Linked DNA regions of Homo sapiens: region 1 is linked to region 2. The links come from fine-mapping of genetic effects on gene expression. Tissue or cell type: blood mononuclear cells. Region 2 holds a variant in brackets; the other region holds the start of a gene. All regions are shown on one strand. Distances are between the middles of the regions. Region 1 holds the start of GAS2 (growth arrest specific 2). Region 2 holds the start of FANCF (FA complementation group F).

What was found.
Region 1: it holds the start of GAS2, and the variant in region 2 is fine-mapped to the expression of GAS2 in blood mononuclear cells (TOPMed, PIP 0.98).

The regions. Positions count from the first base shown.
Region 1 is chr11:22,657,070-22,673,657 of GRCh38, forward strand. GAS2 (growth arrest specific 2) reads left to right here and starts at 9,542. Exons shown (of 8, transcript NM_001143830.3): 1 at 9,542-9,830. RefSeq lists a silencer at 9,622-9,781.
Region 2 is chr11:22,615,867-22,632,454 of GRCh38, forward strand. It overlaps FANCF (FA complementation group F), which reads right to left and starts at 9,957. Exons shown (of 1, transcript NM_022725.4): 1 at 6,667-9,957. The coding sequence starts at 9,944. The coding sequence ends at 8,820. It also overlaps a transcript of GAS2 not described here. RefSeq lists enhancers at 8,847-9,006, 9,017-9,066, 9,447-9,656, 9,521-10,420, 9,747-9,936. The variant G/A (reference allele first, on the strand shown) is at 8,613.

The DNA.
Region 1 (16,588 bases), 41 kb after region 2:
GGAATTCTGGAAGTGTGAATAAGATGAAGAAAGCTAAGTGGTCAGTCTAAAAACAGACTTCTTCATCTCTTACTGATTTGTAAAACTTAAAAGATTCTGTTGATGGTGGGGTACAACATATTGACACCTGATAGTTAAAAGGTAGGACTCTTTGTTACCTCTCCAAGTGAGAGGGCTGTCAGAGCCACACAGGGGTTGGGCCCTGGGACAGGGTAACAGCAAGCTGGAGCTGTAGAGAGCAGCTATGTATGGCAAACAAGGTGGGGTTAGCTGGTTTTCTCCTCCCTGTGGATTTGCTAATTTGAATAATTCTGAAGACTCTAGAGCAGAGGGTCTCTCCCTAGTTGTTTAATGTTTGGCCCCAGAGGAGATTAAGGTGAGTGCATAGTAGCTCAGAGAGTGAGAACTTACTAAGGGAAGTGGTTGGAGTGTGGGCTTCATTGGTTGTTCCTGCGTGTGTGTGTGTGCACCACCCCCTCACACACACTCACATGCACACACACAGGAAGTAAAAAAGAGCTGAATAAACTCTAAATACAAACAAGGCAAGGAAAACAGAGAAAGTAATAGGGAAGAAAAAAATAACATGTTTGCTCCTGAACAGAAGATTGTTTACAAGATTATTTTCTTCTTTTAACCTGCAGGGTCATGACTACCGTACTTCCTCACACTCCTCTCCAGGTCTTTTGTTGTCAAAAGGGGCAGCTCACTTATGTGAGCATCAAATCTTGGCCCACAATCATATATTACTTTTAATGCATTTTATTAGAATTTAAATTTACTTCACAATTTAGTAATGAACTGAGTCTCCCACACAGTTATGCAACAACTGGTAAACAATTAGAACTATTTATAATTTCTACTTTTGTTTAGGAATTCACCAACATTTGGTGTTAGAAATTTAAAACGATCCAGATGTATTGGTGGAATGTAGGCAACTGAACACAATTTGCTTTTTTTTTTTTTTTCTTTTTTGAGATGGAGCTCACTCTGTCACCCAGCCTGGAGTGCAGTGACACGATCTCAGCTCACTGCAACCTCCACCTCCCAGGTTCAAGTGATTCTCCTGCCTCAGCCTCTCAAGTAGCTGGGATTACAGGTGCCCACCACCATGCTCAGCTAATTTTTAAAATATTTTTAGTAGAGGTGGTGTTTCACCATGTTGGCCAGGCTGGTCTCGAATTCCTGACCTCAGATGATCTGCCCGCCTCAGCTTCCCAAAGTGTTGGGATTACAGGTGTGAGCCACTGTGCCTGGCCTTTGCTTTTAAAAGACTCAATTAACTTGGATTTACCCTCTTCCTGTGCCCACTGACCACACAATAGATCCCTCTAGATATCAGATAGGTATCTCAAAATTAACTTGTCTAGGACTAAAACCCTGATTTTCATTCCACTGAACATGAGACAAAACAAAACAAAGCAAAACAACTTCTTCCCATCTTTCCCACTTCATTAAATGGCAGCATAATTTTTGTAACTGCTTATCCAAAAAAAATCTAGGGGGTTTCCTTGTCTGTTTCTCACACCACATATCCATCTATCAGCAAGTCATAATAAAATCTAAATCATAATTTTAAATAATGAACACGAATGATGTAGTTTTGTAGAGTAGGATTGAATGCTCACATAATTCACCTGCTTTTTTAGAACATGGGCATACTGAGAAGAAAGAGTGTGAAGAAAAGAGAAAAGAATAACCACTCGAAAGATCTCCCTGACTTTTATCTCCTCTCCTCTCATTTATTGATTCTGCCATAGGAGTTTGGATCATAATCCTGAAAGATGCAATTCTAAATGCCATAAATCTGAATGTTGAAATTACGAAAGCCCAATTGTGGGGATGAGATTAGTGTGTTTTTGGTTGTATGCAGCATAGTTGCATCATGTTAGTAGTATCATGTTAGGCATAAGTATGATTTTGTTATTGCCTCTTTTTGGAAATTAAGTATAGTTTTAAGGAGATGCATATGGTTGCTAAATTGACAAGGAGTAGATGTGTGAACTTAGTTTTACATGTGTCAATGTGACTGGATTAAGGAATACTTAGAAACCTGTTCAAGTTTTATTTTGGGTATGTCCATGATGGTGTTTCCAGAGGCGATTAATGTGTGAAACTAGGTGGTATAGGTAGGGAAGATCTTTTACTATTAGCTCTGATAATCTAATCCAACTCTGAATCTTGATTGGTATGTTCTTATTCTGCATTTTATTTTGAAGTCAAATTTGTTTGACTCAATTCCTAGTCAGCTTATTATTAAAAATAAAAATGCAACCCCTCCCCTTTAAGAGGCACTTTCAGTCTCCTGGCTATTCAGCCCGCTTAGGCTTGGGAGCTAGTTAAAAAGACATCTTCCCTGACCCCCATCTATCCTCGACTGATACCAGATCCAAAAGAAAAGAGATTATTTCTGTGTAGGATTTGAAACCTTCTCTTGACTTTTCCTGGTTAAAAGTTTTTCCTCAAAAGCCTTCTTCGGTATTCTTTTCATGAGTTCCTTCTCATACTTCTGTGAGGTATTTGACTTAATTCTCTGTGATGTGGAATCTTCACCACATGGGGCAGCTCATCTGGCTTGGAATTAGGATACCTGACAGAAACTTATTTCTTTTCAAAAATGATTTTTTTTCTCAAATAATTTTATTATCACATTTTAACTTTTAAATATAAAATCTTTCTAGTTTTTATCTAAGACATTTTTAAAAATGATATATAGACTCCTGACACCTCCTTATAAAGAAAGAAAAAAGCAAGGATAGAAGGAAGAAAGGAAGGAAAAGAGAGAAGAGAGAAAGGAAAAAATGGAGGGAGGAAGGAAGGAAGGGAGGGAGGAAGGGAGGGAGGAAGGGAGGGAGGGAGGGAAGAAGGAGGGAAGGGAAGGAAAGGAAAGCTCTGTTGCTTCAAATAAGTTGCTTGAAGTTGCTTCCCATTTGTGTTGGGAAATGAGCATATGTTCAAATCAGTCAGACTCAGGCATGAGTTTAAATCTTACCTATGCTGCTTAATAGATGTGTGTCATTAGGTAAGCTTTTTAAAAACCATTTTTGCTATTGGAATGAGCTCCCGGAAAGCAGGGAATGTGACTTCATTTTGATACAAGTGCCTAACACAGAAGAGGTTGGAGAATAAATGAATGAGTGACCCAACAAACCATGAAGCCACTGGATGTCTAAAGAGAGTAAAATGGAATGTTAGGAAGCGAGGAGGGGAAGACTCAGAGAAGGGATGTATAAGATTCTCTGAACGTTTGTATTTTTAATGCTGCTAATATCTTTATCTTAGGGAATTGTTGTAATGAGTCAATAAGAATATTTAGGTACTCACTTAACAATAACATACCTAACATTCATTTAAAACTTGCTATATGCCAAACAGTAAACTATTTTACATGTATTAACTTATATAACTCTCAAGACATGCCTATGAGAGAGTGGTATTTGTTAATCCCACTTTACAGATGTGAAAACTGATAGTTGAAAGGTAAAATAATTTGCCTGTAACTTTTAGCAAACAAGCAAAGAAGCTGGAAGTGGACCCTGCCTGATTTCGTCTGTGACCAAATCTGGACTCCAGATTACTCTGCTAAATGTAGTGACTACGATATTACAAATTTACTATGCCTATTCCTTGACAGCCTCTGTGGGGATGATGGCTGGCGAAACTTCTTTGCAAATGACTCTAGAGACTAAGTGACTACTGTGATCATAGCAGAATGGCAATATTCCTTTATGCTAAGAAAAGCCCCACTGACACTGACCCTATTCCCAGGCAGTTCTCTCACTTTGGGCTTGGAGTACTGCCCTTTTATAGGATGCTTCCTGATCCATTATTTGGAACTACCAAAATGCTTTAATGAGATCATTTTAAGTGTCATATCTTTAAGTGCTTTGTATAAATCAACAGTTGGAAAATATTCCGTATTTGTGAACTGTGTTATAGTTACAATAATGGAAGTTTCAGCAAACCTCTCATTCTTCAACAAAGTAATCCTAAATTTGAAATTATTAGTGTACTTAAAAATCAATGAATAACTGGAGCAATATCTAACTGCAAGAGAATCCCAAGAAATGTGATACTAAAATCTCACTTATAAGTAAATTGTGCTAGTAATAAAGATGCAAAATTAATAACTGGTATTGTCTTTACAGAGGGATCTCCATTTAATTTTCCTTTGATGAGCACAGTTCTTGCTGAATCCCGTCTATCACCCAATGGCACCCACTTTTTCCTCCCTTGGATATGCAGTGGTTTTATGATTTATTTATTTATTTATTTATTTACTCAATTATTTGGCAACCTTAGGCTTGGTATTGTGATAAAGATTTGAAATATAAGGATGAATAGTCTAGTCCCTACTCTCTAGGACTCACAATTTGGTAAGTGAGATAGATGCATAAACAAATAACTGTGATACTACATTATAAGTGAGAAATAAAAGAAATAGCAAAGTGCTCAGAGCACTGGACATAGAGTCACAAAAAATATCTCTACCAGAGAGATCAAGAGAACCACAAAGAAGGTGACAATTAAGCTTTCCCTAGAAGAGTGAATCAGATTTCTTCAGAGGGAGACAGTGAAGGTAAAAGATCATTTTGGTTAGCATGAGGAAAGGCATGGAGGTGTAACGGTATAAGATGTTTGGGATGTTGTGACATTACATTGCATCAAGTCTACCAATAACAATATATAAACATATCTGTTTCATACTTTGTAATGAAACCATCTGTTAATTGAGACCTTACCTCACTTTTTATTGATTTTCCCCTTAGTTTAGTTTCTTTACAGTCAGATTTTTTTAAAACTGTAGGTCATAAAACAAATTTAGCAGCTCTCTAATAGCATTTCTTTAAAATTGAATAGCATAGAAGAGACTATAATAATGTCAAGTAGAAAAATATCAGAGTGCAATATAATAGTAAAGTACGTAATGTTTTTGTGAAACATACTTAGTTTATTTGTGTCTAAGTGTTCTATGTGTCTGTTCCATAATGTATTTCATATTGTGGGTCACAATAAAAATTTGAAAGCCACTGCAGTAGTAATATTTTCTATTGCTTTTCATTGCACTCTTGTTATATTGGCTATGATTAAACCTTGAGTCCAAATGAACCTAGGTTTTTAATGAAGTGACAAGTGACACAGACTGACCTCATTTATAAGCCTGGCACACAGGCAAGCATCTGTTTTAGTGAACTCTAGTTACATTTTACCAGATGAAATGCTGCTAGCTTGGGAGTGAAACTATCATTTGTAATGTTATTTTAACATTGCTTTTCTATTCTGGATTCTAAACTATTAAATTAGAGACAATATATAAAGATATAACCAATTAGTTGTATATTTTCTAAGACACCAGCTTCTAAAATAATCATTCATTTCTTTCAACAATTATTGAGTGTCTACTATATGTCTAATGATATTCTACATGCCAGAGATGTAGTGGTGGAAAAGACAAGAAAGGTTGTTGAAATAAACATATTTTACATTAAACATTTATATTATACTTGAGGTACTTGTGATTAAAGTAACATGACATAGACTTTTTTAAGATTTAGAAGCAAACTACAAGATAAAGAAAGAAAGAAAACTTAAAAAAAAAACACCTTCAACTTAGACAACAGACGTCACACCACAGAAGGTACTGCATAGGATATTTAAAACTAGATGAGGCAGGGTGTGGTGGCTCATGCCTCTAACCCAGAAACTTTGGAGGGTTGGGGTAGGGCATCATGTGAGGCCAGGAGTTTGAGACTAGCCTGGGCAACATAGTGGGACTGTGTCCCTGGGCAACATAGTGGGACCGTGTCTCTGCAAAAAAAAAAAAAATAAAAATAAAAAATTAGCCACAGTTGGTGGCTGTGTTAGTCTGTTTTCACTGTGCTATAAAGAACTACCTGAGACTGGGTCATTTATAAAGAAAAGAGGTTTAATTGACTCACAGTTCTGCATGGCTGGGGAGGCCTCAGGAAACTTACAATCATGGGGAAAGGCAAAGGGGCAGCACGGCATGTCTTACATGGCAGCAGGAGAGAGAGAAAGAGAGAGGGGAAGTGCCACCCTTTTAAAACCATTAGGTCTTGTGAGAACTCCCTCACTATCATGAGAACAGCATGCGGGAAACGGACCCCATGATCCAGTCACCTCCCACCAGGTCCCTCTCTCAACATTTGGGGATTACAATTCTAGATGAAATTTGAATGGGGACATAGAGCCAAACCATATCAGTGGTGCTCACTTGTGGTCCCACCTACCGTGACACTGAGATGGGAGGATAGCTAGAGCCTGAAGGTCAAGGCTGCAGTAAGCCATGGCAACGCCACTGCAATAGCCCTTCTCAAAAAAAAAAATAAAAAAATAAAAAATAAATGAATAAAAGTAGATAAGACAAATGGCATATTTCACAAAATGATTTTTAATCTATTTCTTATGTAAAAATTAGAAAACATATGCTTATACCTAACACAATTTGCCAGAAAAAAATGAGTCTTGCACAGGAGGGAATTAATATTTATGCTACTGTTGTGTTGTACTTAAAAAGTTTAAAGTTCTCCACTGAGAGTAAAGTAATAGATTTTTTAAATTGCATATTAGATGGAGAGTAAACCTTGAACTTTACATATGAAATTTCTTTGATTTATCCTTGTAGTTTTATATATGAATGGTGGTGAAAAGTAATAGCATTTATCGTTTAAAATTTCAGAAACAGTCTGTTTTTATTCGTAACACTATTTGTAATGACTATGCTAGGATTTATAAAATTTATTCTCTTTGCCTTATGACATTAAAAAACTATAATTCAAAATATGTCAATTGAAGGCCTTATATTATAGACTAAGATGCTAGGTTGGGAAAAATAAACATATTTGACCTCACTGAGGAAGTATGTCAACAAAATGTAAGTAAATGATTTAAGTTATTATTAAATATATGTCTTCATGTATTTTTTAATACCATTGCATGTCTTCATACTGCTTTCTGTATCATTATTCTCACTTGCTTCCCAAGCTGTCTTTTGTCATTTTTAACTGCTCCTTTGAAGCTGTTTAGGAATATAAGTCTTTCTTGGTCACTTCTGGAAATTTATTTTACCAAATTTAACCCAGTGGCTGTTTCCGTGTTATTTAATTTTTTCTCAAAGTGTCCTCTAACCTCAATCATTTATTGAAGGTTTGCTTCACTTTTCAGAGTGAGTACTACATATATTATTTTCATTTGGGAGAAGGACTAAGAGAGAAAAGGAGAGTTATCTACATAGGAGGGAAAAATAACGTGTTTTATTGATCATTTTTAAACTCAAAAAAGTATTTATTAGAGAAATGAGAAAATTCATGTTTGAGACAATGTTGAAAGTTTAGAATGTGGGACACACATAGTAATGCAGAAATTTCCCGTGTTAAAGTCCTCTAACTGTGATCACTTGAAAATAAAAACTAAACTGTTTAAATCTGGCTTGACTTCTTTTTAATGGTGTTAAGTTTCAAGGATGTATTTAAACATTTTTCATCTTATTGAAGTATTTGCTTCCTTTGCATTCACATTAGAGAAGCTATAGTTGCTTCAGTTGGACTACATTTTCCTAAGGTGAACAGTTTGGGTTGAGTCCACACTAAACTAAGAAAATACTTAGACAAAAGATTATCTTTGACAAATATATCAGTGAGTGATCAGAATATATAAATAGAAATATTGATTTTGAAAAACAAGATAAAAATCAAATGGGAATTTTTACATATGCTAAAAAAATTAAAATAAAAACACTGTATCCGTGTCTCTTCAGAAATCTTTTGTATTACTTCTCTTTTGTCACCAAAAAAAATATTCAGTACAACTCTTAGATGTTAATGAAAGAAAAAACACATTATTTATTTCTTCTCGTATTTTTCTTTTCGCTCTTTCTGAGAGACAGAGGATCTGACATAATGCAAAATTTAAGACAAAAAAAAAAATACCTGGAAGAAATGAGCATGGAGAGGGAGTAATTTTGAATGATTATGCTTTCCCAATTCCTCTGTAAGCCTCCTTTTTTTCCCCAAACTGTATTTAGCATTGTTCCTGAATCAACAAAAACATTGCCTTACTCTTAGCTTTTTATAACACCAATAATGAACAATGTGACAAGAATATTCATATCTGGGGAGAAATAGGATGTAAGATTTTGAAAGTTCAAGGTGCTAAATTTTTTGAACTCATTACATATTTGGATAATTCTTAAATTAGCATTTATTGGCTGATGATGTTTTGATCAGGAAAAATTATCAAGAACATTTGATTTTTTACTAAATTGTATGTGTTCAGACACTCAAAATTCTTTGTTGGGGCTCTAGGAATACTCAGATCTGATCACATTTTAAGAAATTTTATCATTCAGATTCGTTTACTAAAACTCATCAGTAATGAGTTCTGTATGTTTTGTTGTTATTTATGTTTATCCAAGCTGTTATGTTGACCTTTTAAAAATGCTGTTTCTCCTTAAAATTAAGAATAACTATTTTTCCCTTCTTTTAGAAAGCTAAGGAGGAAATGTGGACCTGATAGCTGCAAAAGCAAATTGAACTAAAATAAAAAGTTCGGAGTTCAAGGACTCCAAACTTTTCAATCGGTTTTCTCTTCTTCTTTATTAAATGTATTGCCACTAGAAGCAAATAACTGATGCAGTTTCTGCCAGATAATGGCAATAATAAAGGTGAAATGTGAATATTTTTTAAATTATATCTAAAATCATCCACATCATTTAGCTTGTGGATGTACAGGTAGTTTCTATTTGGGAGTGGGGCTAGGTAACTCATCATTATAAAAATGGTATCCAAGCAAGGATCACAATACCTGTACCACTGCCATTGTAAACATTGGATGGCAATATACATGAAACTGATGAACATGAGAACAAAACAAAATAAAAAGTGTAATACATTTTATTTATGCTCCATGGGAGGTGGTAACCTGTGGGGATCAGCACACTCAGCAAGCGGTCCCCGCGCATTAGAGGTGAATCAGACACTTGAACATCTGTCCACTTCATGGAAGACGTTTCATCTCAGAATACACGTACTAATAAACAACAGTTGGAGACAATTGTCTCTGACATTCAACATAATGCTGAGCTGAGGCTGAAAGAAGGAAGGGTGGAATTGTATTTCCTTTGGTAAAGCAAAAACAGCCGTGAGTACAGCCTCTTCTAAAAATCTGATATTTAAAGAGAATTGTAAGACATCAAAATGTTCAATTTGGAATGAAGAGTGGCCGAAGTTACTGGAAAGCTCGTGCCTCCGTCTGCAAAATCACTGGCCAGGAAAGCAAAAACTTTTCCAACACCCAATTTTAATATTGTGCTAAAGCTATTGACTCTGTTAAACCTCTAGAGTTAAATATGATCCCCTCCCCAGCCCCCACCTTTTCTCTCTTAGGTTAGTGTCTGGGGGACAAGGAGGGGGCTGGAGCTTGGCCCCAACCTCGGAATTGCTGCCAAGGGCTTGTAATACAATCTCTCCCCGTTTGAAGGGTAAATCAGTGTCAACTGCATTTGCGTCCACCAAAAAAAGTAAGCATTTTACTTCCGCTCGGTCTATGAGGACTGATGAAATGTAGGAAATCTGTTTCTGGCAGGGAGAAAAAATCGTTTTCCCAAACAGCACTAAAAGGAGCCATCAGAGAAGTATGAAGAGGGGTAGTGCGGCTGTAGCTGCTGCCGCTGCCGCCAGGCTGGTGGGGTGCGGGGAGCGGCTGCTGCAGGACCTGTGCCTGGAGGGGGCCGGCCCCGAGAAGCTGCAGGAGCCCAGCCCGGAGCCCAAGCGCCTCTGAGAGCCGCCAGCAGCCCAGCTCGGGACGCGGGGGTGAGCACGACTGGCTGGCCCAGTTCTGCGCCAACGCCGCCGCAGCGTGCGCGCACCGCAGCCGGGGCTCACGGGAGCCCCTGCCTGTCTACTGCACCCGGGGCGGCGGGGGAGGGGAGAGGTCATTAAAAAATAACCTCAGGAACGAGGCGGGGAAGAGTGAAGAGCCGCGGACAGTTGGACAGGCTCTTTCTCTAAGAGTGGGTATTCACTGCAGGGGGTGACTTTCTGATTCTCTGGAAACAACCATGTGTTCCTTATCCCTATTGCGGAACACCCCGGACAACCGCAGCACGTAAGCCCGCTGGGGTGGCTCTGCCAACCAGGGACAGAGTGAGGATTTTTAATGAACACATCGATTATAAATGCACACATATGCATTCGTGCACAAGAGTATCTGTAATGCATGCTCAGCATTGTCTGTTATGGTGGGGTGGGATAGAGCCAGAATGGTCTTAAAGGGCTGATCCTGAATGTTTTACTTGAGTCGTTGAGGCCAGGATGGGAGGAAAGAGCGCCACATGTGTGATCTGGGGTGATACTCACTGTGTCTGATGAGTTTGATGAAATTGAGTTTTATGTGAATAAACAAACGCTAGCCGATATATATCAACACACTTTGGGGAGATTTTGCGTGGTATCGTTCTTTTTGTTCAGTCCAAAGTTGAGACTGGAATCTGAAATTGTTTGGGGAACAAAGGAGGCAATTTTGCTTTGGAGACATTATTTATACTGGCAAAATTAAATTCTGTCAACTCAGTATGGTAAATTACCATTAACTTAGCCCAGGTATCCGAAGAAGTTTCCATTGTCTTGAATGAAGAGGGAGCAAAAGCGAGGGTTAACAGATTCTGTTTCTACATTCTAAAAACAATTGAGGTTGGGGGAGGGTTGTTAATTCTTTTCCCAGTTAACCTTTTTGAAATCACAGTCTTTACCCTCTCCATCTTCTTCATCTTCATCCTCTCACCTCCGTGATCTTCTTACAGTGAAGAGTTTGCAAAACTTTATTCTTATAAAATTATCTCCTCCAACCCTCTCCAACAAGGTTAGATCAGTTGTGTATGAGAGATCTTATGCCAAGGAAATAAGATCTGCTTGTGCACAGGAACACCCATTTGACATCCTAGTATTAAAATAAAGGCTTAGACAGTTTGGATGTACCAGCCTGGCAGAGGAAGTCCACTTTTCCTCCCCACGTATCCCCTGAGATTCACAGAGGCAAGGCAGAGAACAAGACCTGTGCTTCTTTACTCCAAACTCTTAGCAGTGTGGACACTGATTAACTGCAGCTGGGGTCTGATTTGCCCAGCCTGTCTTTGATATTGATCAATGAACTCCTTCTCAAGGAATGCTTTCCTCTAACTGCGGTGAAGGTGGTGGCTCTGGTGGTTCTCTCCAACATGGGTGTCTGGGTTTTGACTGCCTAAGAGAAGGTAAGGGACAGATGGATGAGGCATGGGACAGTGTGCCTTTGCAAAGCACATTGGAGACTTTGCACAGGGCTGCCTGAATGGTCCCTTACATGGAAAAGGTAGCTTGGATTTCAGCCTGAATGCTACTGAAGTTTGGGTTTATTTCATTACTTTATTGCTAAACACTATGCTGTGGTGTTATGGACTGTGCTTTACTGGGAAATAAGTTCACATGGCAAAAAAATATTTCACCAGGTGCAAAAGGTCATGTGATTGCCCTGGAATTTTTTAGCATCTTGGTTAGAAACTTCAGTTAAACCTCAAACTTTCGAGTATGGTGAAATACCTGGTCTTATATTAACCCTAAGTATGTTGTGTGTTACTTAGAAATCTTACTTCAAGACTGGAAGTCTGCATTGAAGACTCAGGGAAACTTTGGAAAACTAAGTTACCTTGGTTGAGAAGGCATGATGAGGCTGTAACTGTTTACAGAGAGACTTTTGTTTAAAACTGCAGGGCATGTTGTAAGGTTGGTTTGGTATCTTTGTGGTTTTGATATTAAGGTCCAAACAGGATCCAACTGTTTCTTTAAACCTGAGCAACTAGGAAGGTTTCCACTCAATGTTTTTTGACTAGAGAAATGAACTGGAGTAACAGTAGAAAATAATCTGCTGTCAAAATTAAGTAAGAGGCTTATGTAAGTTTCTGTATTAAATGTTTTCAGCATCAATACAATTAAAACTTTGCTAATTTTACTCCTTTATGTGAGACCATGTCACATATGTGTATATATTTCCACAGAATGTAGAACCCTGCTGGTTCTTAACTACATTATAGTTAACTAAAACAGAAATCTTTATATTAAAACAACAGAAAAGAATTTTCTCAACTTAGATAAAATTTTGATGTAAATCCTTAAATATTCTAGTTGTTAATATTGTTAACAATAGTCATTAGACTGTCATTAGACTGTCAGATGGTTTTCTATTTTAATTATGTTCCAAGCTAATCTGGTAGGGGTTAAAAAAACCTATGCTAAATTGTTTGGAAGGATGTTTTAGTATGATTTCTTTAAAACTTTAAAATATCCCTAACAACATGAAAATATAGAAAATCAATTCCCATTCAGGTTTTTTTAAATCATGATTTGAGAAGAAATTGTTATTTGTAACTACACCATCATTTCACCCAAGACAAATCAAGATGGGACTGTGGGATAAGAAAGAGATCTCTAAAAGAGAGTCAGCACTACACTAAATTAAGGATCACAAGAGCTGAGTAGGATACTTTTAATAATTATGACTAAACAGTCTTGTTACTGTGGGCAAAATATCCTCTTAGGCTACCAACCCCTTATTAATTACGAGGAGTTTGAATATATCGTTATTGTAAGGTTCCTTTCAATTTAAAGATTTTTATTATGGAATTAGATAAACTACCATTAAGTGTCATTTTGCTTTATGTTTGGTGCTTTTCAATTTGTGGATAAGTTGCTCTACTGAACCCAAGGTGGAGGTCCCATTACGAGGTCTGAAATTGCCTTTCTGTTGAAATTGTGGACTTTATTTTCTGATTAGACCTTTAGAGTAAGATTTTGTATCCATGACATTGGTTGAAAATGTATATTTTGTGAGATACTATTAATTAGCCAAAATGAATCACAAAAGAGTGAAGAACTCACAATGATGAAAGAGATATCTAGAACTTTCCTGGGTGGTTTATTCTTTGAGTTCAGCTAGGAAAATGGCATTTTCTCTTTCCAGATTTTGGAAGGGTATTCGATTTGGAGCACTGTTTATTTTTAATTTTAAAAGGTAACGTGATTGACCAATAAACTATTTCCTCAGTGTTTGACACCTGTAACACATGAAACTGAATAGATGTGGGGAACAATGCTGCAGATGACAGCAAAGATTACCTTTAGGGAGGAGACCTTTGACTGTGGGTTGATTAGGATTCATTGTTTTCAATGTTCACAGTTGAGTCTGTGTGTGTAGATGGGGTGGTGGTAGTGATGTCCTCTCACACTTACTTTGAGAGGTATATAGCATTTCCCTATTAACTGATTAATCATCATCTTAGGGGCAGCATTCTTCTCCATATGAAGAAAACTTGGAATAATCCATTATCTACTGTATCATTAATACATTTATTTGTTCTCCCCGTTGTCCTTTGTCTTTTCTTAATTATTTAGAGTTCTATAAAATATTCCTATTTTGTCACAGAATTGCTTTCCGTTTTGGGATAGGTCAATAGAAGTTTTATTTTGGCACATTTCTGATGGTGATCATTTCTATTTTGCTAATAAAAAACATATCGAATATTAAATATATGCCAAGCATTGGCACAAATATTTAATCCTCACAATTATCTTTAAGTTTTCAGCCTCCGTTGTATATAGTAGAAAACACAGGTACAAAGAGGAAAATTCATATGACTAGAATAGAGTAGCTACTAAATGGTTAGGTAGTGGACCTATTATTTGACCCTGGACTTCTGATTCCAGTTCCAATATTCTATCCATTATTCAGGCTTCTAAGTGAAATCTCATAGCCGACAGAAGTGTATATCATTTCATGTTTTTTGTCTTTCCAGTTGCTTTTCTATGTAATGTTGCAATGCATTTTCTCTAACATGTCAGCAAAGCCTAGAGATAAGCCAGAAATCATCTTGGTCATAGTCAAAGAACACCTCTAGGTGGCATGGAAGAATACTTTTTCTTCAGAGTCAAAACTATGATGTCTTCAGCTGGGATTCTGGGACAACAAACTAGACAGAGTCTTTAAACATGTGATATTTTACTTACAAAGTCATTATTTTTTTCTTTTTCTCCTGGGCTATTTCAAGTCTCATCATATTCATAATTGTTATTCCAGAATCACTTCTACTATGGAAAGAAAGAAAAAATATATACACACACAGTCTTTGAAGGATTTAGTATTAAGTTTCTGCATGTTTTTCTCTTGAAGTTTTATTTTTCTGGATTCCTAGACCTAAGGGTTGGTTATCCATTTTAGGTAGACCGAGAAAGCTTGGAGGAGCCATAGAAGTATTTGAGTACTTACTCCCCTTTTAAAAGTGATTGGCTTTGTTTAATAGTTACTAAAGTTACTTATCAAGCTTTTAAAATACTTGGACTATATACACTTTATTGGAAACATCATTCAGTGTTTAGGCACATTATACAAAAAAGTTTTTCTTTCTCCCTAACCTACTGCTTTCTTCAAGTCTAGTGGATCATCAGTCACTTTATTTCCCACCTTTTTAAAAAGTTACCCCTTGGCATCTCTTGTGGTTTTGAACACTTTTGAATGAATTCAAGAGAACTGAAATGATCTTTTTGTGTAGCTTGTTCTTTACGATGTAATTCATCTGATCCATATTGACTAAACACTTCTTTAAAAAGTTACAAGGAGGGTAAAATTCCATAGTGATCTTTTTATGGGAATAAGATAAATTAATTTGATCTTTCTTCACCACAATATAATCATTTTAGTTGGAAACTACTTCACCATGGGGTAAATTCTCCATACTCCAAATTTTGATCATGCTAGCTGAATCCATTTTTCATGTTTCGTATTCATGGATTAGCCAAATCTAAATCCAAGACCTGCAGGTATTGACTTTCAGCCAAACCGTTGAGTCATTTAAGTTTGGCAGTGATTTGAAATGTGAAAAAAAGGATCATGAGAAATTGGATTGAGAATCTGAATTCTTTTAAGAAGGGGCTTAAACAGAAGAGTCCTTATCTATGACAGTGACTTTAGGTTTCTACATATTTGACATATGTCTAATTGTGTAACTTCTATTGCATGTTAATTACTCACTAAGCCTTCTTTCTCTCACCTCTGTCTCCTGGGGAAATGTAACTGTGTTTTTGCTTTTTTCTCACCACTAAAATTTTGACTGTATACAAAGTAACAAAATAAAAATTGCTTAATTATTCTTATTGTTTTTACTTAATGTTCATCTCTAATTATTAGAAGGTAGTTTGAGTTACTTTTCTGGCAAAACACAGGACAGAGTACATGAGAAATAAATGTGCCACTGTCAAAGAAAATAAAAACTTCACTGTTTAGAGGTTTTGAGGGAAAGGATTGTGTCCTTCTGGCTCATTGAAATTGTTACATGCCATTAGGCTTACTGTAAACTATCCCTTGATAAATTATTTGCTGGACAATGAGCTTAAGAATCTGAGGTGTCTTCTTGCTTTTATAGAGCAAAATAGGACTCTGATGCTTAAATGGAAGTCACAGAGCACATAATAGGGTGTAGGTAAAGTTACTGAACAGCCACATCTCACTTTCAGGAAAGTAGTGGAAGAGATTGTGTCTTGAGAAGACAGGCATTTTAGAGGTAACCCTTTTAAGATTTCAATTAGTTATTTAAGTATATGAATCATGTGCTTATATGTATTACTTAAATGTTTCTGAGGCCAGCAGGCATATAGGAATCTTAACCAGCTACAGGGAGAAGTTTTGTTTTTCTAGGACTAGACATATTTTTTTTTTAACTGGGGCAGAAAATGCTTTGGGTTTTTCATGTTTAATCACAGAATTTGGAGAAAACTTTAGGACTTTATATGGATAACATCATTATTAACTATGAAATAATAAAAAGTGGTGTTCTGATTCCCATAATGACAATCTAATAATGTATGACAAGGTGTATTGAAAGCAGTTCACATTTTCAATGGTTGACTTTAGATAGATATATATAAGATGTTTTCAGAGAAAATTTATGGTATTTTTTTCAAAAATTACTCGACAGTAATTTAATTAGAAATGAAATTGTGCTTTTAAATACTATATTTATGATACCTTTTAGGTACTTACTCATACTCCCAACAGTCTTTTCTATTACTACAGCAAAATATTTGAGAGATGCTCCCACTTTGCATTTTTCTAAACACCAGTGTCTTATTTGTTCTTCAAAAGCAATATTTAAAATAAATTAACTTATGTTAAGTGAATTAGAGTTTGAGGTTAACTGGAAAGGAATACTGTGTAGAGTTTCAAATAATAAAACCAAAAGGAGAATATATTACTTATTGGTAACTTTAAAATGCCATAAATACTGCAATATCACTGAAAACCTCATGATATCATATAAACATTACCTCTTGCCTATTGCAAGTATTTTCATTTTCATTGTCATACAGTCATAATGCATCTGGTTATTTCATAAGCATATTTATATACAGCGTAGAATCCTGCATGTTATTAAACATGACTATTACATTAACTGCTTCATTAGTTCTTCCGTAGTCTTACATCCTATAAATAATGCATACAAAAGTGCTATATTCTGTCCGGGCATGGTGGCTCAACGCCTGTAATCCCA
Region 2 (16,588 bases):
ACATTCAAGGTTATTATTAAGTGAGGATTTACACCTGACATTCTGGTTGCTTTGTAATCTCTTCCTTCTTTGTTTTCTTCCTGTCTTCAACTAGTGAAGGTGATTTTCTCTGGTTATATGATTTAGTTTCTTGCTTTTTATTTTTTGTGTATCCATTGTATGTTTTTTTTGTTTGTTTGTTTGTTTGAGGTTACCATGAGGCTTACATATACTATCATATAAGTCATTATTTTAACCTGATAATAACTTAACACTATTTGCATAAACAAACAAGCAAAAAGAAAACTAATCAAAGTCCTATGCTTCAACTTTATCCCCCCTTTTTTAACTTTTTATTGTTTCTATTTATATCTTATTGTATTGATTATGTCCTGAAAAGTTGTTGTAGTTATTATTTTTGATTAGTTCATCAGTTAGTCTTTCCACTTAGGACAATAGTAATTTACACACCACAGTTACTATGTTATAATATTCTGTGTTTTTCTGTGTACTTACTCGTACCAGTGAGTTTTTACCTTCAGGAGATTATTTACAGCTTATTAGTATCATTTTCTTTCTGATTGAAGTACTTTAGCATTTCTCGTAGGACAGGTCTGGTATTGATGAAATCCCTCATTTTTGTCTGTCTGGGAAAGTCTTATTTTATCTTCGTATTTGAAAGCTATATTCACCAGATTTACTATTCCAGGGTAAAAGCCTTTTTTTTTTTTCTTCAGCACTTTAAATATTTCATGGCACTCTCTTTTGGCTTGTAAAGTTTCTAATGAAAAGTCTTCTGCCAGACATATTGGAGCTCCGTTGTATATTATTTGTTTTTATTTTGCTGCTTTTAGAACGCTTTATCTTTGACCTTTGAGAGTTTTATCATTAAATGCCTTGAGTCTTCTTTCGGTTAAATCTACTTGGTGTTCTATAACCTTCTTATAGCTGGATATTGATATCTTTCTCTAGGTTTGGGAAGTTTTTTGTTCTTATCCCTTTGAATAAACTTTCTCCTCCCATCTCTTTCTCTACCTCCTTTTTAAGGCCAATAACTCTTAGATTTGCCCCTTGAGGCTATTTTCTAGATTCTGTAAGCATGCTTCATTACTTTTTATTCTTTTTTCTTTTGTCTCCTCTGACTGTGTATTTTCAATTAACCTGTCTTCAAGCTCACCAATTCTTTTCTGTGCTTGAATCATTCTGCTATTAAAGGACTCTGACACATTCTTTAGTACACTAATTGCATTTTTCAGCACTAGAATTTCTGCCTGATTCTTTTTAATTATTTCAATCTCTTTGTTAAATTTATCTGCTGGAATTCCGAATTCCTTCTCTGTGTTATCTTGAATTTCTTTGAGTTTCCTCAACACAGCTATTTTGAATTCTCTGTCTGAAAGGTCACATATCTCTATTTCTCCAGAATTGATCCTTGGTGCCTTATTTAGTTCATTTAGTAAGATCATGTTTTCCTACATGCTGTTGAGGCTAGCCGATGTTCTTTGGTGTCCGGGCATTGATGAGTTAGGTATTTATTGTAGTCTTCACTGTCTGGGCTTATTTTTAGCTGTCCTTCTTGGGAAGGCTATTCAGATATTTAAAAGGACTTGGGTTTGTGATCTAAACTATATCTGCGTTAGTGGGCACCTCAATCCCAGCAATGTTGTGATTCTTGTAGACTCATACAGGTGCTGCCTTGATGGTTTTGGATGAGATCCAGGAGAGTTATCTGGATTACCAGGCAAAGGCTCTTGTTTCCTTCCCTTACTTTCTCCTAAATATACAGGGTCTCTCTTTCTCTCTCTCTTTTCTGAGCCACCTAAACCTGGGGATAGAGTGACACAAACACCTCTGTGTCCACCACCATGACTGCAGAAGGTTAGACCTGAAGCCAGCACAGCACTAGGTCTCACCCAAGGCCTGCTAAAACCACTCCCTGTCTACTGCCTGTGTTTGCTCAATGCCCTGGGGTACTACATTCAGCAGATGGTAAAGCCAGCCAGGCCTGTGTCCGTCCCTTCAGTGCAGCAAGGTGTCCCAAGCGCTGGGTGGGTCCAGAAGTGCCATTTGGGAGTCGGGGACGAAAATCAAAAACTTTAGGAGCCTATTTAGTGTTCTAAAGTATTGCAGCTGAGCTGGCATTCAAGCCACACAAGGCAGTCCTTACCACTCTCCCCTCCCCTTTCTAAGGGCAGAGAAGCCTCATCCCACAGCCACTGCCACCCCAGGCCATGAGGAGTACTGGCAGACTACTCTCGATATTCCCTTAAGGCCCAAAGTCTCTTAAGTGTGTTGTGAATACTGCCTGGCCTGGGACTCGTCCTTCAGAGCAGTGAGCTTCCCTCTGGCCCAGGGCAGGTCCAAAAATTCATCCAAGAGTCAAGTCCTAGAATCAAAGACCTCAGGATCACACTTAGTCCCTTCCTCCCCTTGCTGGTACCCAACATGTGGGAAAAAAGGTCCCCTTTACTTTTCCCTCAGCTTTTCTTAAGTAGAAGATTTTTGCCCCCTAGCCACCATTGCTGGTTATGTACAGAGTCTCACCTGAAGCCAGCAAATCTCAGAGGCTCACCAAGGCCCTTGATATAGTGCCTGGGTATCACTGTTGGTTATTCAGGGCCCAAGGGCTCTTCAGTTAGCAGGTGATAAATGCTGCCAGTAGTGGGTCCTTTCCTTCAAGGCAGCAGGTTCCATTCCCTTCTGGCCCAGAGTGTATCTAGAAATGTCACCTGGGAGGTAGTGTCTGGAACAGGGGCCTCACTACTCTGACCAGTCCCTTATTCTGTTGTGGCTGGGCTGGGATCCTACAGGCAAAACAAAGTCCTCCCCACTCTTCCCTCTCTTCTCCTCAAGTGAAAGGGAAGGGTCTCTTTTGGAGTCATGAGCTGTGCCACCTGAGGTTAGGGGAGGAGTGACGACAGAACTCCCTTGGCTGCCCCAGCTGGTTTATCTGTATGCCGTGTGCCCTTCCAGTCCATTGTCTATGGGCCTAACTCAACACAAGGACTTGCCTAAGAGTTTATGGCCTAGATTGCCTTTCAAGTTTACTTGGAGACACAGAGTGCCGTAGCCTCTAGCCCATGGTGGTGAGAGTTGCAGGAATTCAGGTTCCCACTAGGGCTGGTTTAAATTCTCCCTCTGTGGGAAGGATGAGTGTGGTCCAGTTTTCCTTTCTGCTGTAACAGGACAGCACTGAGTTCACTGCTTTACAATTGCTGTGTTCTCCCTCCCCCAGTGCTCAGAGGCTGCTGCTGCCTGGGGTGAGGAAGGGGTGGCATTTGTGATTCAGGACTGTTTTTTAATCACTTCAGTACCTCTTTTGGCAATATGTAGTTAATACCAGATACTATGAGTTCTCACCTGATTTTTGGTTGCTATGAAGATGTTTTTTCTGTGTACATATGTTAACTCAGTGTCCTTGCTGGGGAGGCAAGGGAATGATTGGTTTCTGTTCGGCCATCTTGCTCCACCCTCTTCCTGATATTTAGAGTTGGTTTGGATGTTTGGTTTGAGAGGCTTGTGAGACATTCAAGTGGGGATATTGGTCCTGAAGCTATGATGAGACCTCCAGACTAAAGATATAAATTGTGAAATTCATAGCATATAGGTAGTATTTAACGCCACAGAAATGGATGAGATCACACGGGGTGAGAGCACTACACAAAAGAGGCAGCAGAGTTATTAAACACTGAGAAATCGTGAATATTTAAAGGATGATTAGGAGAAGAGGAGCCAGAAAAATAGACTCTGAAAACATTGCTGGAGAGGTAAGAGGAAACTAGAATAGAGTGGTATCATATAAGTTATAAGAATAGAATTCCAAGCCCAGTTTCAAAAAAGAGGGGATAGGCCATGGTATTTAATGCTGCTGAGAGTCAAGTAACTGAATACCAGAAAAGTGTCTGATATGGTTTGGCTCTGTGTCCCCACCCAAATCTCATCTTGAATTGTAATCCCCACGTGTTGAGGGAGGGACCTGGTGGGAGGTGATCAGATTGTGGGGACAGTTTTCCCCATGCTGTTCTTGTGGTAGGGAGTTCTCATGATAGTGAGTTCTCGTGAGACCTGATGAGTTAAAAGTGTGCCACTTCCTCCTTCTCTCTCTCTCTCTCTCTCTCTCTCTCCTACAGCCTTGTAAGGAAGGTACTTGCTTCTTCTTCACCTTCCGCCATGATTGTAAATTTCCTGAGGCCTGCCAGGCCATGTGGAACTGTAAGTCAATTAAACCTCTTTCCTTTACAAATTACCCTGTCTTGGGAAGTTCTTTATAGCAGTGTAAAAATGGACTAATACAGTGTCCTTTGAATTTAGCATCATGCAGGTGATTGGTGAGCTTGACAAGACTTATTTCAGAGAAGTGTTGATGGCAGAAGTTAGGTTGGTGTGGGTTAAAGGGAAAGAGGACTTCCACTTTTAGCAAATCAATAACTAGATATTCCACAGGGCCCAGCTGCTACAAAACAAATAGATTCTCAATATAACATTCTTTGAATGTTTTGTTGGGATTTCAGAAAATAAAGGAAATTTCCAAGCCACCCCTTCATATCTGTTTCTCCAAAACAGGGAGATCTGAGTAGTAAGCAAGTAAGATTCAGAAAATATGCTTTGAGCAAGACATAAGGTAGAAAAACTCAAGCCAAAACTCTTACAATAAACCAAAGTAGTCCTAGGTTAGGGGGGGTTCTCTATTTCTCCAGCAGAAGCATTTAAAAATGCCCTCATTGGGCAAAGAATACCCTATTTAGACTCCTAGGTTTACATAGAGTATAACCAAACACATGTGAACACACAATAGGAAATTACAAAAGATGTAAAGAAATAAGCCGTCATGAGTGAGAATCAACAGAATAGGTTTAGATCCTCAATACTTCAGGTTGTGAAATAATTAATAGATGATAAAATAACAATGATAAAAAATGAAAACAGAATCACAAAAAGCATGCCATATGAGATTACTAAAAGGTAAACAGGCATATTAGGAGAAAAAAAGCCAAATAAGACTTTTTAAAAATCACTGAAATTTAAAACCAATTGATAGCTTAAACCTCAGATCAGACAGAATTATCAAGACTATACCAATACTACTTAGGGTTATAGGCAATGTTGATGACATAAGACATCCCGAGCAGTGTTCATAAGAGAAAGGTGTATTCCTCTCCTATATTAACAGGACAAGCTAGGTAGGTGGGCTCTGTTTTGCCATTCTGTACATGTGACTTCATCTTTGGGTCTACAGCAATTGTCCCAGTCATCTTCAGCCATATGATTCAAGGTAGCAGCAAACTAGCAGCAAATTAACTTTCTAGCCCATTAAAAGGGAGAAGCAGAGTATTAAGGGCAAATAACTTCAGATTTCTAGGGAATGAATATTAAGTTGTACATATCACTTCTGCTTATATAAAAGTAACCAAAACCTAGCATTATCGCCACATGTAACTGTAGGAGAAATTGGGAAATTTACTCTCTATCTGGGTGGCCATTTTCAGCTAAAACCTGGTGGTAGGCTAAAATGAAGATGGGGAATATTGATCTTGGGATATAACAGCAATTTCCAAAGCAAAATAGAATGATATGGAGATAGAAACTGGGACAGAGCGGTTACATGATATGAGTAGTGTGAGAAGATCTAAGATCTAATATAGGCCCGATCAAAGTGACAGGAATGATTTTTAAAAAGTGGAAGAAAGGAAATATTGGGGAAAAATGGCTGGAAATTTTTCAGAATGAAGAAAAACACATATCCACACATAAATGAAACACAACATAAAACAAGCAAGAAAAACAGAAATTTACAATTAGATATTCTGAAGTGACTATAGATACTGAAATCGGGACCACCTTAAAATAAACAGAAAGAAGAAATCACTCTACAAAATAACCACAAGTAGACGAATAGCTTTCTTATCAACAATGAAAACCAGAAAAGAGTTAATATCTTTAACATGTTAACCTGAAATCAGGAACACAGCAAAACTACCTTCCAACAACAACAAGGAACGATCTTAGTAAATAAAAACTGAGTTTACCACCAAGAGACCTTCTCCAAGGGAATTTGAGGTACAATCATGGGAAACAAAATTGTTAAACCAAAACACTGGATAATAACTTGAGAGTTTATAGATAAGAGATCAGGGTTAAAGTTTCCTAAGGTCCATAGTATCATTAAGAAGGAGGGTTAAGATACTAATATTAGATATTTTTAAGTTAAATATGGTAAGTTTTGAGAGTAAAAGCATGGGTATAGAATTAACATCCTAACTGGTAGAGGGGAAAATATCATGAAATAAGAAGACAAACAAATATTTAGTCAATTAAAGAACTGAGAAGTGAAACATAGAGAAATCAAAGGAAGTGGAAAGCACAAAATAGGATAGCAGGAAAAAGTCCAATCATACAGTGTTAATATATGACAATGATAATAGAAAAAAATAGACTTTAAAGCAGAAAAGCAGTCACTACAAACAAAAGGTTCAATTCATTAAGATGATATAACGATTCTATATTTGTTTGCATGTCATAAAATTGCTCAAAATACATAAGATGATAATTGATAAAATTTCCTGAAACAATGTTACAATGGGAGATTTCAATAGTGCTCCCTCATTTGATAGGACATAGGGAAAAAACACAAAATAAATATCTCTAGATTTTATAAAGAAGTTATCAAATATTCTATTTTTATAGTCTTCCTCTCACTTTTTTCTCTCTCAGTGTATGCGTAGATTCCTAATCTTTTCAAGTCCTTAAGAGAAAGTATATAAAGCTCTAATGCTGGTTTCATTTATTCAAACACTACAAGTATCTACCATATGCTGGACACTGTGCTAGGCTTCTGGAAATAAAATAAATGACAGATACGGCTTCCACTTTCATGTTGCTTTTGTTTATACCCTTGGGCATTTTACTTAATCTTTTAGCGTATATTCATAAGAATACAGTTTTGGTGTGAAGATTAAATAAGATTATGTATGTAATGAACATATGGAGACTAAAATAACAGAATAATAAATGGTAAGTATAAAATAGATTTTAAAATGTTATTTCTTAAGTCTATTGTCAATCTTTACAATTTTATTGTAAATCATAGTGTGAGATACAGCTGCAAATATAGGGAAGTAAGTTCACAAACTGTTATTTTCTAAAGCTAAAGCTAACATTAGGCCTTGCTATGGTAGAACTCTTCACTGGGTTGTTTCTTAAAAAAAATTCACGCAACTGACAGGAGGAATTGTCTTTATTCTTGCATTAATGATAAATGTAATCTACAAGATGGCCTTCATGGATTAGAAAAAGGAATCAGACCACAAGGAAAAAGAAATTGCTGGTTTTCACTCAAGATTTATCTAGAAAAGTGTACTGACTACTGGAATAATAGTTTACCCCTGGGTTGTACCACAGAATGAGAAATTCTACAAGATTATACAACTCTTTTTCTACAAGATTACACTACTCATATTGTTTTTATTCCATTCCGGAATTAGAAATTAACTTTCTAAATATCATTTTTTTCTCCAAAAAAATCCTCTTACCAGCTAACCTGGATATGGACAAAAATATCTTGATTGCTGTAAAGGTCTATCTCCCTAGTAAAAATGAATAAATTGCCCTTGAATTTATTCAAGGCAATCACTATCAGCTGTGGAACACCCAGGTAAACTAACACAACTAGGTTCCTACACACAAAACAAATATTCTAAACTGTTTCCACAGGGCAGCCACCAAGGGAAAAATAAGGAAATTTAACTATTTTATTCTAAACACTTCATTTACATATAAGGCAACTGTGGCCCCAAGGTTGTGATTTATTAACCTAGTTAACGGCAGAAGCTGCACTAAAACCTGGATCTTCTACTTAAAATGTTGTTTTGGCCAGGCGCGGTGGCTCACGCCTGTAATCCCAGCACTTTGGGAGGCCAAGGCGGACGGATCACAAGGTCAGGTGTTTGAGACCAGCCTGGCCAGCATGGTGAAACCCCGTCTCTACTAAAAATACAAAAAATTAGCCGGGCATGGTGGCCTGCGCCTGTAATCCCAGCTACTTGGGAGGCTGAGTCAGAATTGCTTGATCCTGGGAGGCAGAGGTTGCACTGAGCAGTGATCACACCACTGCACTCCAGTCTGGGTGACAGAGCGAGACTCCATCTCAAAAAAAAAAAAGTTTGATTCTTTTATCATCAAGCATTAATTTAATATCCAAAGGCATATATTCGTATTTACTGTGCTTTAAACATTTGTCTGTGCGTCAATGCTTTAAAGGGACATACTATGTGGTGATTCATTTTCAAAGTAAGAATTTGCAGAAAATGAGAAACAAACTTTCTGAACAATACAATTTTAATGCATACTAAGGCTGGTTAACTGGTTAGAATACTAGGTTAACAAGGCCAAACTCCAGATAGGCCAACAGCTTTTCAAACCAATATTCCTGACACTGCCAGGAATAAAGAAAACTCTTCACTACTGAGGGAGGGACAGAAAACCTAGAAAAATAAACCATACTAAAAGAAAAAGGGTATTTTGTTTGTCACTTTAAAGCTGCTTTTTCTTTAAACGGTACACATATTTTCAACATTCTTACAAATGGGCCTTCTATTAAAAAGCAAACTATTGCTAATTCCATGGCTTTAAGTGGA[G/A]TACTTCCAATCACTTCCTCTATCCAGAAAATCCGTGACACTACATGCCAGCTACTTTGCATATTTATAACTGTTTAATAAACTATTCAAAATTAGCATCTAAAATAATTATACTTTGGACACACGAAGGCATATATTTGGTGAGAACATTGTAATTTTCATTTTGTAAACTATATATTCTATATTCAAGTAATAACACAGCATTGCCTATACAGAACTGAGGCCTGCGCTGAGACCCAAAACTTGTCTTTTCCTAAATGCACCACTACGAAGAGCTAATAAGAGGTCTGTCCAGATGCTAAGACCAGGTACTTCAAAATCTCCATCCTGCGCTTTACAGGTCTCCAGGGCAGTTAGAACTTTATCTTTCAGAGGTGGAGGGGCCTGACAGAGGCTTTGAAACCTATTGTGCAACTCCTCCCAGGGCACATCTTGGGACTCAGTTCCAACCCAAATGCCTTTCTGAAGGTCATAGTGCAAACGTTGACCCCAGTCTGTTAGCAGACCCAGATAGACAGGAGACAGCGCTGGGTGGCGGCTAGTCACTAAAGTCAAAAGCCCGGCTGGGAGGGCGCGACAAAAGGCAGCAAAGACTTCCGAATTCCCCAGAAGCCAGTGGACTAGCACTTGGCTCCCCTCTCCAGGTGATTTGTGGATGCCGGGTTCCAACTCTTCTTGGGGCCGACGAGACAAAGGCGGCTGCAACAGCGCCACCGCTATCACCTTCAGGAAGTTGTTCTGAGGCAAGCGCTCCCACAGGCTGCTGAGAAACCTGGCGGGACGCTCCGCTTCGGCCTTCCCCACCTCCTGCAGACGCTCCAGCAGCAGCTCCGCCTGGGTCTTCATCAGAGAGTCCTCCTGGAGATTTGGGTTCTCTCTATAGCCATTGAAGCGCAGCATGTGCACCGCAGACCGCCGGCGGGCAAGGCGGGCCAGGCTCTCTTGGAGTGTCTCCTCATCGGCGTCCCGGACGCCCGGGCCGGGAAAGAGTTGCTGCACCAGGTGGTAACGAGCTGCATCCCCGAGGGCCCGGTTCTCCAGCAGGCGCAGAGAGAGCAGGACGTCACAGTGACCGAGGGCCTGGAAGTTCGCTAATCCCGGAACTGGACCCCGCCCAAAGCCGCCCTCTTGCCTCCACTGGTTGTGCAGCCGCCGCTCCAGAGCCGTGCGAATGGGGCCATGCCGACCAAAGCGCCGATGGATGTGGCGCAGGTAGCGCGCCCACTGCAAGGCCCGGCGCACGGTGGCGGGGTCCCAGGTGCTGACGTAGGTAGTGCTTGAGACCGCCAGAAGCTCGGAAAAGCGATCCAGGTGCTGCAGAAGGGATTCCATGAGGTGCGCGAAGGCCCTACTTCCGCTTTCACCTTGGAGACGGCGACTCTCTGCGTACTGATTGGAACATCCGCGAAATGATACGCCTCTCTGCAATGCTATTGGTCGAAATGCATGTCAATCTCCCAGCGTCTTTATCCGTGTTCCTTGACTCTGGGCAACTTAAAAGCCCTAATACTTTTACTTTCGCCACACAAAGAGGTTCTTCTTAGTGGAGGGAGAGCAGATGTAGGGCATCCTACCGAGAATTTCCGGAACCACGTGCGAGATGATGCCAGTCATGAACGTCTCCGCGCTTCCTTTCGCTTTGGAAATATCCTTAAGTAGAAATTTTCTGAGCTTTGCCTAAAACTAGAATCTGTGTTGAGGTTTTTCAAAATTAAGTAACGCCAGAGACATACTGTGACGTGAGGAAACGCTCTTAAATGAAATTTTAAGATCTATTTGAGAAACATGTACTAAAAATGTACTGACCTCCTATTAATGCCAGGCGCTATGCTGAATTCTGGGCCTTCACATTGTCCTTCCATTATTAGAACTGAAGCCCAGATTATTTGAAACAAAAAATAAACTTCAATAATTTATTAAAATTTGCAAAGGAACAAAATTTTACTTCACAATTGTACATTTCGTTTTCGTAATTTTTAGGACAAAATAGCTTAATTGACTCTTCTGTCATACAAATAATCAGCTGAAGGAAATGGCATTTAAGAGCATCGAACAATAATAAATGTTTGATTAAATAAAAACCGTGACAAGAGAGTAGGGAGGAGAAGGTCCTATGTCGCTCACTGATGCACTTAACAAACATTTGTCAACTCCTAGGAGTTGCATTCTGTACAAAATGCACAACAATTCTTACTTAAGTTCATAATATAGTAATTCATTTGAGCTGAATTTCCTTCCAGTCCTAAAGACACAGCCAAAACTATTCGAAAAGTGGGGGAAGGTGTTTTGTTTTGTACTTTAACAAAAAGGGGAAGAGAAACAAATTTAAAAGAGGGGAAGAGTCATTTTTCATTTATTAAAATAAGCATTCCTACACCTTTTAGAAAGTAAAGCAGTGATGTGCATGCTGTTAATTCAGATTTATGCATTTATTTATTTATTTTGAAACGGAGTCTCATTCTGTCGCCCAGGCGCGGCCAATTTTTGTATTTTTAGTAGAGATGGGATTTCACCTTATTGGTCAGGCTGGTCTCGAACTTCTGACCTCAAGTGATCCTCCCGCCTCGGCCTCCCAAAGTGCTGGGATTAGAGGCGTGTGCCACCGCGCCCGGCTATTATTTGATTTTTATTAGTTATCTCAAACTCTTACTTGGTCCTGAAATCGTTATTTTATTTTATCCTAAGGATACTATGAATCTTAAAATTCTTTTTCTTGGCTACTACAAACTTAGAACCAAGTGTGCAGCCTGCCTTTAGCAAATGTACAGGCATCACTAATTCATTTATTTATTCTTATATTTAACACCTATTATGATACATAGTATGAGGTGCTACAGATTTAGTAGTAAAATAAATGCAGTCCTAGCATGAGTGGAGAAGTTCATCTTGTACCATTTAAGAGAGACATTAAATGAATAACCTCAAATGTGATAGTAGGATGAAATTGAGTGGGGTCACCAAGTCTTAGGGGATAGGAAGGTCTCTTTAATTACTGACTTTTCAGGCCGGAGGCAGTGGCTTATGCCTGTAATCCCAGCACTTTGTGGGGCTGAGGCCAGGCGGGTGGATTACCTGGGGTCAGGAGTTCCAGACCAGCCTGGCCAATATGGCAAAACTCTGTCTCTACTAAACAAACAAACAAAAAAATTAGCTGGGCATGGCGGTGCACACCTGTGATCCTAGCTAATCGGGAGGTTAAGGCAGGAGAATAGCTTGAACCCGGGAGGTGAAGGTTACAGTGAGCTGAGATCGGGCCACTGCACTCCTGCCTGGGTGACACAGCAAGACTCCATCTCAAAAAAAAAAAAAAAGGAAAATGGAAAAAAAAAGGAAAAGAAACCAACTTTTCAGTTGAAAGTTCAAAGCTGAGTGTTCAGAGGAGCCTTCAAGGCTACAGGAATCCTTAATTTTTTTTGCAGGTATCTGAGTTGAAAGAACCAGGCCTATTTAAGGAGGTGGAAAAAATCCAAAAAAGCTTTGATTCAGAATGGGGATGACAGTGTATGGCAAGAATTATGCAGATTAACTTTAGCTTCATACCTTTCTACTTATCTGTTTAAATCTTGATTTTAAATTCTTCCTTGAGCATAGTAACGTATAAACTCCTACATATTTCAGATTAGTCTATTTTCATTAAATAAAATGTCTATGAAGTTTCCCCCTCTAAAGAAAGAAAAGCCTAGCATTTCAACCTATATTCTTGAGGCAGGGTGGGGAGGGATACAAAAACTTAATTATAATGCAAAGCAGATTTTATATATTTTGAAAATTTTAAGAATTTTGCTATGAGAGACTAGATAGAAACTGACAGGAGAGTTCTGGGAAGACTACAGAGGACTGATACTTGATTTAGGCCTCAAAGTGTTTGAACAATCATGGGACAGAAGAAAATCCAAGTGAGAGAAATAATATAAGGTAAAATATATGAGAACACAAATGTGTGTACTGTGTGCCATGAATACCAGGAACAATCTCCCTCCTCTTGGTTTTGATCCCCAAATTCCTGGGATACAGTAAATTGGGAAAGAAAAAGGCCAAATTTCAGCAGATTTTATTTTTATTTATTTATTTTGATTTTTTTCTGTTCTTTGGTGAAGTTTTCAAATATTGTAGCTCATAAAACTTTCTTGTCGTCTTTTCATTGCTTTAACAGAATTTTTTTTTTATTTCAATAGCTTTAAGGGTACAAGTGGATTTTGGTTACTTGGATGAATTTCAGTGTGGTGAAGCCTGAGATTTTAGTTCACCCTCTAACTGAGTAGTGTACGTTGTACCCAACATGTAGATTTTTATCCCTCACCCCATCCCACCTCCCCTGCTTCCAAGTTTCCAGTGTCCATTATACCACTCTGTCTGCCTTTGCATACCCATAGCTTAGCTCCCACTTCCAAGTGAGAACATGCAGTGTTAGGTTTTCCATTCCTGAGTTACTTCACTTAGAATAATGGCCTCCAGTTCCACCCAAGTGGCTGCAAAATATATTATTTCATTCTTTTTATGGCTGAGTAGTATTCCATGGTATGTGTGTGTGTGTGTGTATGTATGTATGCATGTGTGTATATATATATATAACTTTTTTATCCACTTTTCAATTGATGGGCCCTTATGTTGGTTCCGTATCTTTGCAATTGTGAATTATGCTGTGATAAACATATACATGCAAGTGTCTTTCTGATATAATGACTTCTTTTCTTTGGGGTAGATACTCAGTAGTGGGATTGCTGGATCAAATGTAGCTCTACATTTAGTTCTTTGAGACGTCTCCATACTGTTTTCCATAGAGGTTATACTGGTTTGCATTCCCACCAACAGTGTATAAGCATTGCCTTTTCACCACATCCGTGCCAGCATCTATTGTTTTTTGACTTTTTAATAATGACCATTCTGGCCAGGGTAAGGTAGTATCCTTTTCCATAGAGGCTGTACTGGTTTGGATTCCCACCAACAGTGTATAAGCATTCCCTTTTCACTACATCCATGCCAACATCTATTGTTCTTTGACTTTTTAATAATGACCATTCTGGCTGGGGTAAGGTGGTATCCCATTGTGGTTTTAATTTGCATTTCCCTGATAATTAGGGATGTTGAGTATTTTTTCATACATTTGTTGGCCATTTCTGTATCTTCTCTTGAGAAATGTGTATTCATGTCATTTGCTCACTTCTTAATGGGATTATTGGTTTTTTTTTCTTGCTGGTTTCTGTGAGTTCCTTGTAGATTCTAGATATTTGTCCTTTATCTGATGTATATTTTGCAAATATTTTCTCCCATTCTGTGAGTTGTCTGTTTGCTCTGATGAATATTTCATTTGCTATGCAGAAGCTTTTTAGTTTAATTAAGTCTCACTTATTTATTTTTGTTTTTGTTGCATTTGCTTTTGGGGTCTTAGTCATGAATCTTTGCCTCGGTCAGTGTCCAGAAGAGTTTTTCCTAAGTTTTCGTCTAGAATTTTTATGGTTTCAGGTCTTAAATTTATGTCTTTAATACATCTTGAGTTGATTTTTCTTAAATGATGAGAGATAGGGATCCAGTTTCATTCTTCTACATAGGGCTATCCAGTTTTCCTCACACCATTTTTTTTTATTATACTGTAAGCTCTAGGGTACATGTGCACAATGTGCAGGTTTGTTACATATGTATACATGTGCCATGTTGGTGTGCTGCACCCATTAACTCATCATTTACATTAGGTATATCTCCTAATGCTTTCCCTTGACCCTTCCCCCACCCCACAACAGGCCCTGGTGTGTGATGTTCCCCTTCCTGTGTCCAAGTGTTCTCATTGTTCAGTTCCCACCTATGAGTGAGAACATGTGATGTTTGGTTTTTTGTTCTTGCGCTAGTTTGCTGAGAATGATGGTTTCCAGCTTCATCCGTGTCCCTACAAATACCATTCAGGACATAGGCATGGGCAAGAACTTCATGTCTAAAACACCAAAAACAATGGCAACAAAAGCCAAAATTGACAAATGGGATCTACTTAAACTAAGGAGCTTCTGCACAGCAAAAGAAACTACCATCCAGAGTGAACAGGCAACCTGTAGAAGGGGAGAAAATTTTTGCAGTCTACTCATCTGACAAAGGGCTAATATCCAGAATCTACAAAGAACTCCCCACACCATTAAATAAGGTGTCCTTTTGCCAATTTATGTTTTTGTATGCTTTGTCAAAGATCAGTTGATTGTAAGTATTTGGCTTTATTTCTGAGTTCTCTATTCTCTTCCATTGGTCTATATATCTACTTTTATACCAGTGTCATGCTGCTTTGCTTACTATAACCTTGTAGAATTTGATGTTGAGTAATGTGATGCCTCTAGATTTGTTCTTTTTGCTTAGGATTGCTTTGGCTGTTTTTTTGGTTCCATATGAATTTTATGATTGCTTGTTCTAATTCTGTGAAAGATAATGTTAGTATTTTAATAGGAACTGCATTGAATCTGTGTATTGCTTTGGGCAGTATGGTCATTATCATAATATTGATTCTTCCAGGCCATGAGCATGAGGTGTATTTCCATTTGTTTGTGTCATCTATGATATCTTTCAGCAGTGTTTTGTAGTTCTCCTTGTAGAGATCTTTCCTCTTCTTTGTTAAGTAAATTCCTAGGTGATTTATTTTTCTGCAGCTACTGTAAAAGGGATTGAGTTCTTGATTTTATTCTCAGCTTGGACACTATTGGTGTAAAGCAGTGTACATTGTGTTTGGAACTTGAGACTTTACTAAATTCATTTATCAAATCTAGGAGTCTTTTGGAGAAGTCTTTGGGGTTTCCTAGGTATATTATCGCATCATCAGCAAACAGAGATAGTTTGACTCCTTTTTTTCCAATTTGGGTACCCTTTATTTATTTATTATTTCTCTTGCTTGAGTGCTCTGGCTAGGACTTCCGATGCTGTGTTGAATAGAAGTGATGAAAGTGGACATCTTTGTCTCGTTCCAATTCTTAGGGGGAATGCTTCAACATGAATGTTGGCTTTGGGTTTGTTATATATGGCTTTTATTATTTTGAGGTATGTTTCCTCTGTGCTTAGTTTGTTGAGGTTTATGTCATAAAGGGATGCTGGATTTTATTGATTGCTTTATCTGCATCTATTGAGATAATCATATGGCTATTGCTTTAATTCTGTTTGTGTGATGAACCACATTTTTTGACTTGCATATGTTGAGCCATTGATTCATCCCTGGGATGAATACCACTTGATCATGATGAATTATCTTTTTGATGTGCTGTTGGATTCAGTTTGCTAGTATTTTGTTGAATTTTTTTTTTATCTGTTCATCAGAGATATTGGTCTGTAATTTTCCTTTTTGTTATGTCTTTTCCTGGCTTTGGTTTCAGGGTGATACTGTCTTCATATGATATAGGGAGGATTCCCTCTTTCTCAATCTTTTGCAATAGTTTCAGTAGGATTGTTACCAGTTCTCTGAATGTCTCGTAAAATTTGGCTGTGAATCCATCTGGCCCTGGACTTTTTTTTTTTTTTTTTTTTTGACAAATTTTGTATTACTGATTCAATCTCACTGCTTATGATTGGCTTATTCAGGATTTTTATGTCTTCATGATTCAATCTAGGAGGGTTGTGTGTTTCAAGAAATGTATTCATTTTCTCTAGATTTTCTAGTTTGTTTGCAAAGAGGTGTTCTTCGTAGTCTTGAAGGATATTTTTTATTTCTTTGGGGTTGGTTGTAACATCTCCATTTTCATTTCTAATTTAGCTTATTTGGATCTTCTCTCTTCTTTTCTTGGTTAAACTAGCTAATAGTCAAACAGTGACATATTCCCTTAGCATTTGCTTGTCTGAGAAACAGTTTATTTTTCCTTCATTTATGAAACTTAGCTTTACTGGATACAAAATTGTTGGCTGATAGTTATTCTGTTTAAGGAGGCTAAAATAGGACCATAGCCCTTTCTGGCTTATAAGGCTTCTGCTGAGAAGTCTGCTGTTAGTCTAAAAGGTTTTACCTTGTAGGTTACCTG